Homo sapiens: one gene and its partner. The protein of the gene in region 1 purifies or fractionates together with the protein of each later gene. This does not show direct contact. Each region holds a gene or a part of one and is shown in the gene's direction. Other genes may lie near its edges.

Region 1 (3,224 bases):
TTCTATTGCTATGTATCAAACAACCCTAGAACTATGACAATGCTTTCCGATTTCTCATGGCTGGGCTCAGCTGGGCAGCTCTTCTGCTCCACATGGTGTAGCTGGAGTTACTTGTGTGTTATGTTTAGCTGGGAGCTCAACTGAGGCTAGAATGTCCAAGGCCTGTCAGCCTTTGAGCTCTGTCCCTGTGATTTGTTGTCATTCACTAGTCTAGCTGAGCTTCTTTATAGAATAGCAGCTGAGTTCCAAGGGGGAGTTTTTAGAGGACAAGCCCCAGTGTGAAAGTGCCTATAAAGCCTCTGCTTGCATCACTTTTGCTAATGTCCCATTGGCCAAAGCCACTCACATGGATAAGCCCAGTGTCAATGTGGGAGGACCCTACTCAAGGGCATGAATCCTTGAGGTGTAGCCCACTGGGGGCGACTGATATGACAGTACACCACACAGTCCAGTCACCTTGCCAGATGGTGAGCACCTTGAGGAAGGAGCTGTGTTGGTCTTGTCCTCCTCTCCATCCCCAGCACCAGCATAGTGCCTGATCTACCAGGGCTACAGTGGATATTCAGTTAATATTTGTGAGATAAATAAACCTTATTTTATTATGAGTAATAATGGCAAATGAGAGCCATTATCTTTATTTATTTATTTACTTACTTATTTATTCTGGGGACAGAATCTTGCTCTGTCGCCTAGGCTGGAGTACAGTGATGTGATCACAGCTCACTGCAGCCTCAACCTCCCAGGCTCAAGTGATCCTCCCACCTCAGCCTCCCTCATAGCTGGGACTACAGGCATGCACCACCATGCCCAGCTAATTTTTGTATTTTTGGTAGAGATGGAGTTTTCCCATGTTTACCAGGCTGGTCTCAAACTCCTGGGCTCAAGTGGTCTGCCCACCTCAGCCTCCTAAAGTGCTGGGATTATAGGCGTGAGCTACTGCACCTGGCCTATTATCATTGTAGGTTTCCTGTATACAGATGCTGTGCTAAGAGCTTTTTCTGGATTATCCCATTTAATCATCCCAACAGGCCCAGGAGTTGGAGCTTCTACTTTCCCTGTATCACTGATGAAGCAGCTGAGGCTCAGAGAGGTTACATAACTTACCCAAGGTCACCCAGCTGATGAAGGGTGGAGTCAGAATCTGTACTCAGGTCTATCTGGCTCCAGAGCCCAGGCTCTTAACCCCATCATTGCTGCCTTGCAGATGAGGAAACTCAAGTCTGGGAGCAATGACTTGGTTTGGTCTAAGCTGGGAGGTCCCAGGCAATGTCTTGGCCCCACTCATGGGGTGGTTGCAAGACCAAGACAGGGGTGAAAAATGTGAGGATATAAAGCCTCACATTTAGAGGGAAAGGTAGACACAATGTGATACCCAAGGATTTGGGTAGGACCCTGCTCAGGAAGCATGGACTCAATGCAGGAGAGGAAAAAAGGCCCAGGAGCCCTAATCAGTCCTAGGCCTCAGTTTTCTCACCTGTGGAATGGAGCAGTGCCTTTCTGCCTTTGGAAGTGACAAGGTGCCCCTTGCCTCTGCAGACAGTGGGTGAGTCTCTGCTCTACATGCTGGAGAAGTGTCTGGGCCCTGCCTTCACACCAGCCACACGGGCTGCCTGGAGCCAACTCTACGGGGCCGTAGTGCAGGCCATGAGTCGAGGCTGGGATGGCGAGTAAGAGGCGACCCCGCCCGGCAGCCCCCATCCATCTGTGTCTGTCTGTTGGCCTGTATCTGTTGTAGCCCAGGCTCCCCAAGCTTCCCTGCATCTTGGTCCTTGTCCCCTTGGCCACACTGGAGAGGTGATGGGGCAGGGCTGGGTCTCAGTATCCTAGAGTCCAGCTGCAGAAGGAGTGGCTTTTCCTCCAGGAAGGGGCTTCTGGGTGTCCCCTCATCCCCAGTAGCCTCTTTCTTGCGTTTCTTTTTACCTTTTTTGGCACTCCCTCTGACCCCGCGATGAGTGTTTTGGTGGCAGAGGTGGGATGAGCTGGAAAGGTATGGAGGTGGGAGAGGATGGGGCTCTTCTGTCTGTCCTGCTTCTTCAGGTGAGTGCAGGCCAAGGCGGGGGTGAGATGGCTGAGCTTCCAGCGCCTTCTGTCCTGCCTGCCCAGTCCCTTCACTGCTTTCCTGCCCCAAGATGGCTTGCTTTTCACAAATAAAGAGAAAGAGCAGCTTTAGCCTTCTTGGTGGAATCCCAGGCAGTGGGAGCAGAATCAGAACTGCCAGGGAAGGGAAGGGGGACCTGGGTCTCAATGGGTCTCATTTGAGTCTCGCGGGCTGTGCAGATGCCCTGACAGAGTCGGTTTCCTTTGGCGGCATTCCCTTTCCCTCATTCAGCACTTCTGCTGGGAACTCCCTGACTATTCCGCTGCTGCAGGAACCCAGCTAGCTGGCCAGGTGGGGAGGGGCTGGGGACCGGCCAGGAAGGAGGGGTGACTTCATCCCAGAGAGACCCGAGTTCCCCCAGCCCTTCATCACCAACCCGCTCCTGCAGGAGTGAGTCTTACCTCCCCTGGCCCTCCTTTCTGGCTCAGCCTGCAGCGACTGTGAGGCCACAGCTCCTCAGATTCACTGCCCGCTGTGTGCCAGTACTCAGGCAGCTGGAGAGAAGAGAAGGCAGCAGCAGAGGCCCCCGCCCTCACCCCAGCCATCTGCACTTGTACCATTTGCTCTGTGCTGACTGTGGTCCTATAAATTCATGAGAAATAAACTGGTTCTGTGTGCCTCTCTGACCCTCGGGCCTGATCTTTTCTTGGGTCTTGGCCTGTGCCAGATGAAGCTGCAGGGCAGTGGATCTCAGGACAGGATGGGAGGATGGAGTCAGGGAGGCCAAGGCTGGAGTGGGTGGAACAGGAGGGAGGGGCCTGGGAGGAAGCTCTGGGAAGCCAGTGGCAGACATCTGTGGGGTCTGTGGCCCAAACTGGCTGGCAGACCACAAACCAGCTCTTCTTCCTCCTGGGCACACAGCTGGATGTCATGCAGCCACCCTTGCAATTAGGTGGGGCATGTGACTGGGCTCTGGCCGCTGGACCGTGCAGATGTGTGTGCCACTCCGAGGCCTGGTCCCCCAAAACTCCTGCATGCTCCTCCATGCTCTGTCATCCTTCTGCTGGTGTGATACAGACCTCACAGAGACCATGAGGGCCACGTGTTGAACATGGCAGAGCCACAGGTGAAAGGAGTCCTGACCCTGAATCGCTGCTTGGAGGAAGGTGCCTATTAATCAGAATCA
Region 2 (7,048 bases), on another chromosome or scaffold:
CTTTGGTTTCTTCCTTCCCTAAACTAGGTCCTAGTAATTTTGGGGAAGAAAGGAGACAGCAAGGAATGCATGTGCACGTGTGGGTATGATTGTCAGTGAGTGAGGAGCTGAAGCTGGGGGCTGGGGGGTGGGATGGGGAAAATGCCTGGGGGCTGAGGGAGGACCCTGCTTGGTGTCCCAGGGCTCCTGGGGAAGCTCCTAGCCCCACCTGTTCTGCTTCCACCCCCAGGCCCATGAGAGGCTGGAGGAGACGAAGCTGGAGGCCGTGAGAGACAACAACCTGGAGCTGGTGCAGGAGATCCTGCGGGACCTGGCGCAGCTGGCTGAGCAGAGCAGCACAGCCGCCGAGCTGGCCCACATCCTCCAGGAGCCCCACTTCCAGGTTCCTGGCTGCTAGGGCTGGGGTGAGGGAGCAGGAGGTGGGTGGACTGGGGCATGCTGCTGTTGGATGGGCCAGCAGGAAGTTGGATCTGGGATGGGAAGAGACCCGGGACACTGCCCCATTGTCCCTTCTCTTCCCACCACCCCCCAGTCCCTCCTGGAGACGCACGACTCTGTGGCCTCAAAGACCTATGAGACACCACCCCCCAGCCCTGGCCTGGACCCTACATTCAGCAACCAGCCTGTACCTCCCGATGCTGTGCGCATGGTGGGCATCCGCAAGACAGCCGGAGAACATCTGGTGAGGACTGGGCAGGGCCAGAGGTGGTGCTGGTGAGGGTGGGGGGATTGAGAATAACCAATGAACGGACAAAAAAGGCCAAGTGTGGTCTGAAGATGAAGATGGGGCCAGCTTTGTGCAGGGAAGGATTGATGCAGCAAAGGGTCGGGGGAAGACCCAGGAGACCATAGACACTGCACACACACCTGTGTCCGCACCTCTCCAGTCTGCCCACCTCTCCCCTCATTAGTACCTGCTGTAAGTGAAGAATTTAGGCAGAAGGATGGAGGAGGACTTTGTGAGGGTGGGGGTGGGTGGGTAGGGACAGGAATGGAGGAGCTATTAGGAGACTATTTGAAGATTCTGACTTGGAGCAATTGGGGCCTCATCTTACACTCCCTCTGACCTCCAGGGTGTAACGTTCCGCGTGGAGGGCGGCGAGCTGGTGATCGCGCGCATTCTGCATGGGGGCATGGTGGCTCAACAAGGCCTGCTGCATGTGGGTGACATCATCAAGGAGGTGAACGGGCAGCCAGTGGGCAGTGACCCCCGCGCACTGCAGGAGCTCCTGCGCAATGCCAGTGGCAGTGTCATCCTCAAGATCCTGCCCAGCTACCAGGAGCCCCATCTGCCCCGCCAGGTGGGCCCCTCACCCAGCACAAGGCCCAAGGGATGGCTGAGCCTCCTGGCTGTCAAGGTTGCAGGTCTCACGGAGGCCCTCCTCTCCTACTGGTTTCCTCCAGGGAAGATGGGGGTGGGACCTGCAGCCCAGGGGCAGCTGACCGCAGCCGCCGACAGGCCTCTGCCGCTGCTGCACCTGCACATGCTCCCACATTGGCTGGTATTATGCACGCAGCCACAGCCTGGGGTACAAGTGTATGAGAGAGCGCCTGCATTATGGTCAGCGTTCTTCACGTTTGTGCGCGTGCGCAGGGTGGGGTTGTCATATGTCCTGGATAGCTGTCTCCTGGTTGGTCAATTCTGGGGGTGTGGCTGCTCTGTCTCCCTATCCTATTGGGTCTCTCGCCCTCCACCAGAGCCCTTCTCCAAGGGGAGAGGGTGAGTGGAGGGAGGGATCCAGGATTAGGTGCCAGGGTCCTGTGCCCTACTTGGTGGTCCCGCATCCTTGGTCCTGAGATCTGAATCCTGTAGTACTAGATGCAAAGGGAGGTTGGCACCAGGGAGGAGCATGGGCAGGCCTGGAGGCATCACTCCTGCAGGGGGACAGTTCCATTGCCCCTTAGTCTCTGTGAAAAGAGGGGGCATGGGGTAGACCTCCACCTGCAGCCTTCTGCTGACCCTTCCCCCGACCCTTTGCTGATTCCTGGGCCCAGGTATTTGTGAAATGTCACTTTGACTATGACCCGGCCCGAGACAGCCTCATCCCCTGCAAGGAAGCAGGCCTGCGCTTCAACGCCGGGGACTTGCTCCAGATCGTAAACCAGGATGATGCCAACTGGTGGCAGGTGAGCTGCGGGCACCCCCGCATCTCTCCAGGTATGGTGCATGGGAGGGCGAGGGCACAGGGAGGGGTCCTCTTGCTCAGGCAGATCTTGGTCTCATGTCCGTTTTAGGCATGCCATGTCGAAGGGGGCAGTGCTGGGCTCATTCCCAGCCAGCTGCTGGAGGAGAAGCGGAAAGCATTTGTCAAGAGGGACCTGGAGCTGACACCAAACTCAGGTAGGAGGTCCCCCCTACCCCACACCTCCAATCTGGGATCCAACAGGGCCCTGTCTGCCTCACTCACCCATCTCCCTATGGCCAGGGACCCTATGCGGCAGCCTTTCAGGAAAGAAAAAGAAGCGAATGATGTATTTGACCACCAAGAATGCAGGTGGGTATCAGAGCGCCCCCTCCCTTACCCTCCTCTAACATGGCATGCCTTTCCCTGTCCCCACCCATCACCTGTGACGACGTGTGCCTGGCTCAGATGCTGCCAGCCGTGTCCCTAGGCCCTGCCCGACTCCCCCCTGCTCCCCTGTTCCAAGCCCTCTTGCCCTCAGCCTCCCTGAGAGCTCCGCCCCTCCCTCACCGTGCAGCCTGGTGAGCAGCGCCATCTCCCTGTGTCCAGAGTTTGACCGTCATGAGCTGCTCATTTATGAGGAGGTGGCCCGCATGCCCCCGTTCCGCCGGAAAACCCTGGTACTGATTGGGGCTCAGGGCGTGGGACGGCGCAGCCTGAAGAACAAGCTCATCATGTGGGATCCAGATCGCTATGGCACCACGGTGCCCTGTGAGTGGGAGCTGGGCCCTGCTGAGTTGGGGACAAGGAGCAGGGCTCCCCTGGGGCCAGGGCTGGGCCCACCGAATGGGCATCTTCATGGGCACCAGGCCAGGTGGTACCTTTGGGTACACGGGTTGGGGTGCACGCCCTCTGTGGGTGGTTAGGGGAACTTCAGGCTCAGGAAGGGTGAGGGAGGTGTCCAGCCAACAGGTGGCCTAGCGGGCTGGGCTGGCGTCCACTTTCCTTCTCTTGTTTCACTTGCTAAAAGCCATGAAGAAAGTGAGTGCCCAGCTGTGCACCCGGGTGAAACAGGCTACGAGCTGCATGTGTGTAGCCTTGTGGAAGACAGGGCTTCTTAGTGGCAGAAACAGCGGGGGTGGTGGAAGCTCCTGGCTGCCAGAGGCAGGACTAAGAGCACTGCCCTGGTCTGCTTGGCTCTTGCTGTGTGGCTTTGGGCTGTACATTGCCCTTTCTGGACCTCAGCCTCTCTTCTGTGGGCTCTGGGCTGGACCATGATTACCAGCTCATGTCTCTGTGTGTGCCAATGGGGAGAGTGGGGGGCAGGTGTGTGCAAAGGCAGCAGTGCTGGCAAGATGGGGAGCAGACTGCACCTCCAAGGCTGGGAAACGGGGGCCTGGGTAGGGGTGCATATATGTGTCTGAGGCACTGTAACCTGCCCCTGCCCATTTGGTCCAACCTACCCCCATCCCCCTAGACACCTCCCGGCGGCCGAAAGACTCAGAGCGGGAAGGTCAGGGTTACAGCTTTGTGTCCCGTGGGGAGATGGAGGCTGACGTCCGTGCTGGGCGCTACCTGGAGCATGGCGAATACGAGGGCAACCTGTATGGCACACGTATTGACTCCATCCGGGGCGTGGTCGCTGCTGGGAAGGTGTGCGTGCTGGATGTCAACCCCCAGGTACCGCCACTCTGCTCCTTCCCAGCCTGCCCAATGTCCTCTCTGCTGCCTCATTGCTCCCCCATATAGTTCCAGACACCTGTCACCTGAACACGCCCATGTACCCCCTTTGCCCTCAACTACTGCTAGAAACCCAGCCCACCTGGAACCTTTCTCAGCCTTCCAGAGTCCCCACTCCTCCTCTAGTCTCCTCCAGTCACCCCAGCCACCTGCCAGCTGTTTGTCATTTGTCCCAGGACTCATGTCCCAGACCCCCGGGCACCCTTTTCTCATCCACTCCCAAGTGCTCACCCCAACCCCAGTTACCCTCACAGCCTTTCTCTGGTTCCTAGGACAGACATGGGGATATACTCCCTACCTTGCCTTCTCCTTCTGCAGGCGGTGAAGGTGCTACGAACGGCCGAGTTTGTCCCTTACGTGGTGTTCATCGAGGCCCCAGACTTCGAGACCCTGCGGGCCATGAACAGGGCTGCGCTGGAGAGTGGAATATCCACCAAGCAGCTCACGGTGAGGGCTCTGAGGTGTGGGGGAGGGGTCTGATAGCTGCCTAGGGTGGTGGGGGACAGGCCTGAGCTGACAGAGAGAAGGAGGTGGTGTTGGGGAGGGACAGGGGCCTGCTCCAGTTATCAGTGAGGCAGGACGTGGTCCCCCCTGCATAGATGTGGAAGGGGAGGTCTGAGAGAGGAAGTCCAAAGTCTCAGAGTGAGCCAGGCACACACCTAGCCTGGGATACATGTGCTTCTGACTCAAGGCCCCCGGCTCAGCCCACTCTGCAGAGACAGAGTGCTGGCCAGAGAGAGTTCCCGAGGGCAACTGGGAGAGGTGGGCTGGAGGTGGGCCAGGTGAGCTTGGGTTGCTTACAGCTGGGGGAAAGCTGAAGGGTAGGAGAAAGCCAGAGGCGGGAAGGCTGGCTGGAGGGCTGAGTCAGCGTCAGGGAGCAGGCAGCGCCTGGAGGAGAGGCTTCAAGGCCTCATTGCAGAACTCCAGCCCCATCCTCCTTCCTATGTCTTGCTGCGCCTTCCCAGGAGGTGGAGGGTTTGCGGCGCTCTGAGCGCAGGGGTCCCTCTGCTGGCCATGCCTGGTGCTGCAGCATTCCGGCCCCAGGTCAGAGCGTGCCTGGGGCCCAGGAGAGGCTGTCTAGGCTGGCACCCTTCTGCCAATGACCCCCTTAAGGAGCTCTGGACCTTTGCCTGATCCCCATTCTGGGCACCTCCTCCTTGGCAACAGGTGTGGCCAACTGGAGCTGTTGGGATGCAGCTAGCTTCAGCTTATTTAAGTCAGTTGTCAAGTACCCTTCCTCACCCCTGCCCATCCAGCTTCCACTGGGTCGAGGGTGGGGTTGCCCTGGGTACTTGTGGATTGCCCTGGTACCAGCCTGTCTAGCTGCATAGGTAAGGCAGCCTAGTCAGACTTGAGGGAGCACTGGCTTGAGAGTCAGGCAGACCCTGTTTAGCCACTGACTGGCTATGTGACCTTTTTATACCTTCATTTTCTCTGCTATAAATGGGAAAGAATTAATCCTATCTTGCAGAGCTGTAGTGAAGATTATGTGGCATGCAAAGCATTTAGGGGTGTGATTGGCAGTTATTAAAGCTTATTTCCTCCCTTTCACTCACCATCTGTGGTTGATGGTGAGCCACTTTGAGGCACGCAGAGAGGGGCCCCTGCCTCCCTAGCCAGGGAGTCCACACCAGGGTTGGGCTTTGGGGAGGGGGAGTGGGGGCAGCTGTAGCTCCTTCTGACAGTGGGGGTGAGTTGTGGGCACTGACTGTAGGGAGGTCCCCTTGTGCCTGGGCAGGAGGCGGACCTGAGACGGACAGTGGAGGAGAGCAGCCGCATCCAGCGGGGCTACGGGCACTACTTTGACCTCTGCCTGGTCAATAGCAACCTGGAGAGGACCTTCCGCGAGCTCCAGACAGCCATGGAGAAGCTACGGACAGAGCCCCAGTGGGTGCCTGTCAGCTGGGTGTACTGAGCCTGTTCACCTGGTCTTTGGCTCACTCTGTGTTGAAACCCAGAACCTGAATCCATCCCCCTCCTGACCTGTGACCCCCTGCCACAATCCTTAGCCCCCATATCTGGCTGTCCTTGGGTAACAGCTCCCAGCAGGCCCTAAGTCTGGCTTCAGCACAGAGGCGTGCACTGCCAGGGAGGTGGGCATTCATGGGGTACCTTGTGCCCAGGTGCTGCCCACTCCTGATGCCCATTGGTCACCAGATATCTCTGAGGGCCAAGCTATGCCCAGGAATGTGTCAGAGTCACCTCCATAATGGTCAGTACAGAGAAGAGAAAAGCTGCTTTGGGACCACATGGTCAGTAGGCACACTGCCCCCTGCCACCCCTCCCCAGTCACCAGTTCTCCTCTGGACTGGCCACACCCACCCCATTCCTGGACTCCTCCCACCTCTCACCCCTGTGTCGGAGGAACAGGCCTTGGGCTGTTTCCGTGTGACCAGGGGAATGTGTGGCCCGCTGGCAGCCAGGCAGGCCCGGGTGGTGGTGCCAGCCTGGTGCCATCTTGAAGGCTGGAGGAGTCAGAGTGAGAGCTAGTGGCCACAGCTGCAGAGCACTGCAGCTCCCAGCTCCTTTGGAAAGGGACAGGGTCGCAGGGCAGATGCTGCTCGGTCCTTCCCTCATCCACAGCTTCTCACTGCCGAAGTTTCTCCAGATTTCTCCAATGTGTCCTGACAGGTCAGCCCTGCTCCCCACAGGGCCAGGCTGGCAGGGGCCAGTGGGCTCAGCCCAGGTAGGGGCAGGATGGAGGGCTGAGCCCTGTGACAACCTGCTGTTACCAACTGAAGAGCCCCAAGCTCTCCATGGCCCACAGCAGGCACAGGTCTGAGCTCTATGTCCTTGACCTTGGTCCATTTGGTTTTCTGTCTAGCCAGGTCCAGGTAGCCCACTTGCATCAGGGCTGCTGGGTTGGAGGGGCTAAGGAGGAGTGCAGAGGGGACCTTGGGAGCCTGGGCTTGAAGGACAGTTGCCCTCCAGGAGGTTCCTCACACACAACTCCAGAGGCGCCATTTACACTGTAGTCTGTACAACCTGTGGTTCCACGTGCATGTTCGGCACCTGTCTGTGCCTCTGGCACCAGGTTGTGTGTATGTGTGTGCGTGTGCACGTGCGTGTGTGTGTGTGTGTGTCAGGTTTAATTTGGGGAGGAAGCAAAGGGTTTTGTTTTGGAGGTCACTCTTTGGGGCCCCTTTCTGGGGGTTCCCCATCAGCCCTCATTTCTTATAATACCC

Evidence for each region. Proteins that work in one complex are often made in the same cells at the same time.
Region 2: the proteins of NGB (region 1) and MPP2 purify together in Homo sapiens (affinity purification with mass spectrometry; 2 studies listed by BioGRID and IntAct, with this or other methods). This does not show direct contact.

Annotation. Positions count from the first base shown.
Region 1 is NC_000014.9:77,264,983-77,268,206, reverse strand, and holds the end of NGB (neuroglobin), read left to right. Parts: intron 1-1,536; coding exon 1,537-1,671; 3' UTR 1,672-2,724; downstream 2,725-3,224. UniProt on the Homo sapiens protein: Monomeric globin with a bis-histidyl six-coordinate heme-iron atom through which it can bind dioxygen, carbon monoxide and nitric oxide.
Region 2 is NC_000017.11:43,876,537-43,883,584, reverse strand, and holds part of MPP2 (MAGUK p55 subfamily member 2), read left to right. Parts: intron 1-229; coding exon 230-382; intron 383-532; coding exon 533-682; intron 683-1,073; coding exon 1,074-1,301; intron 1,302-1,995; coding exon 1,996-2,127; intron 2,128-2,235; coding exon 2,236-2,341; intron 2,342-2,426; coding exon 2,427-2,495; intron 2,496-2,700; coding exon of another isoform or gene 2,701-2,732; coding exon 2,733-2,894; intron 2,895-3,600; coding exon 3,601-3,803; intron 3,804-4,181; coding exon 4,182-4,310; intron 4,311-5,601; coding exon 5,602-5,778; 3' UTR 5,779-7,048. UniProt on the Homo sapiens protein: Postsynaptic MAGUK scaffold protein that links CADM1 cell adhesion molecules to core components of the postsynaptic density. In CA1 pyramidal neurons, required for synaptic KCNN2-containing channel function and long-term potentiation expression.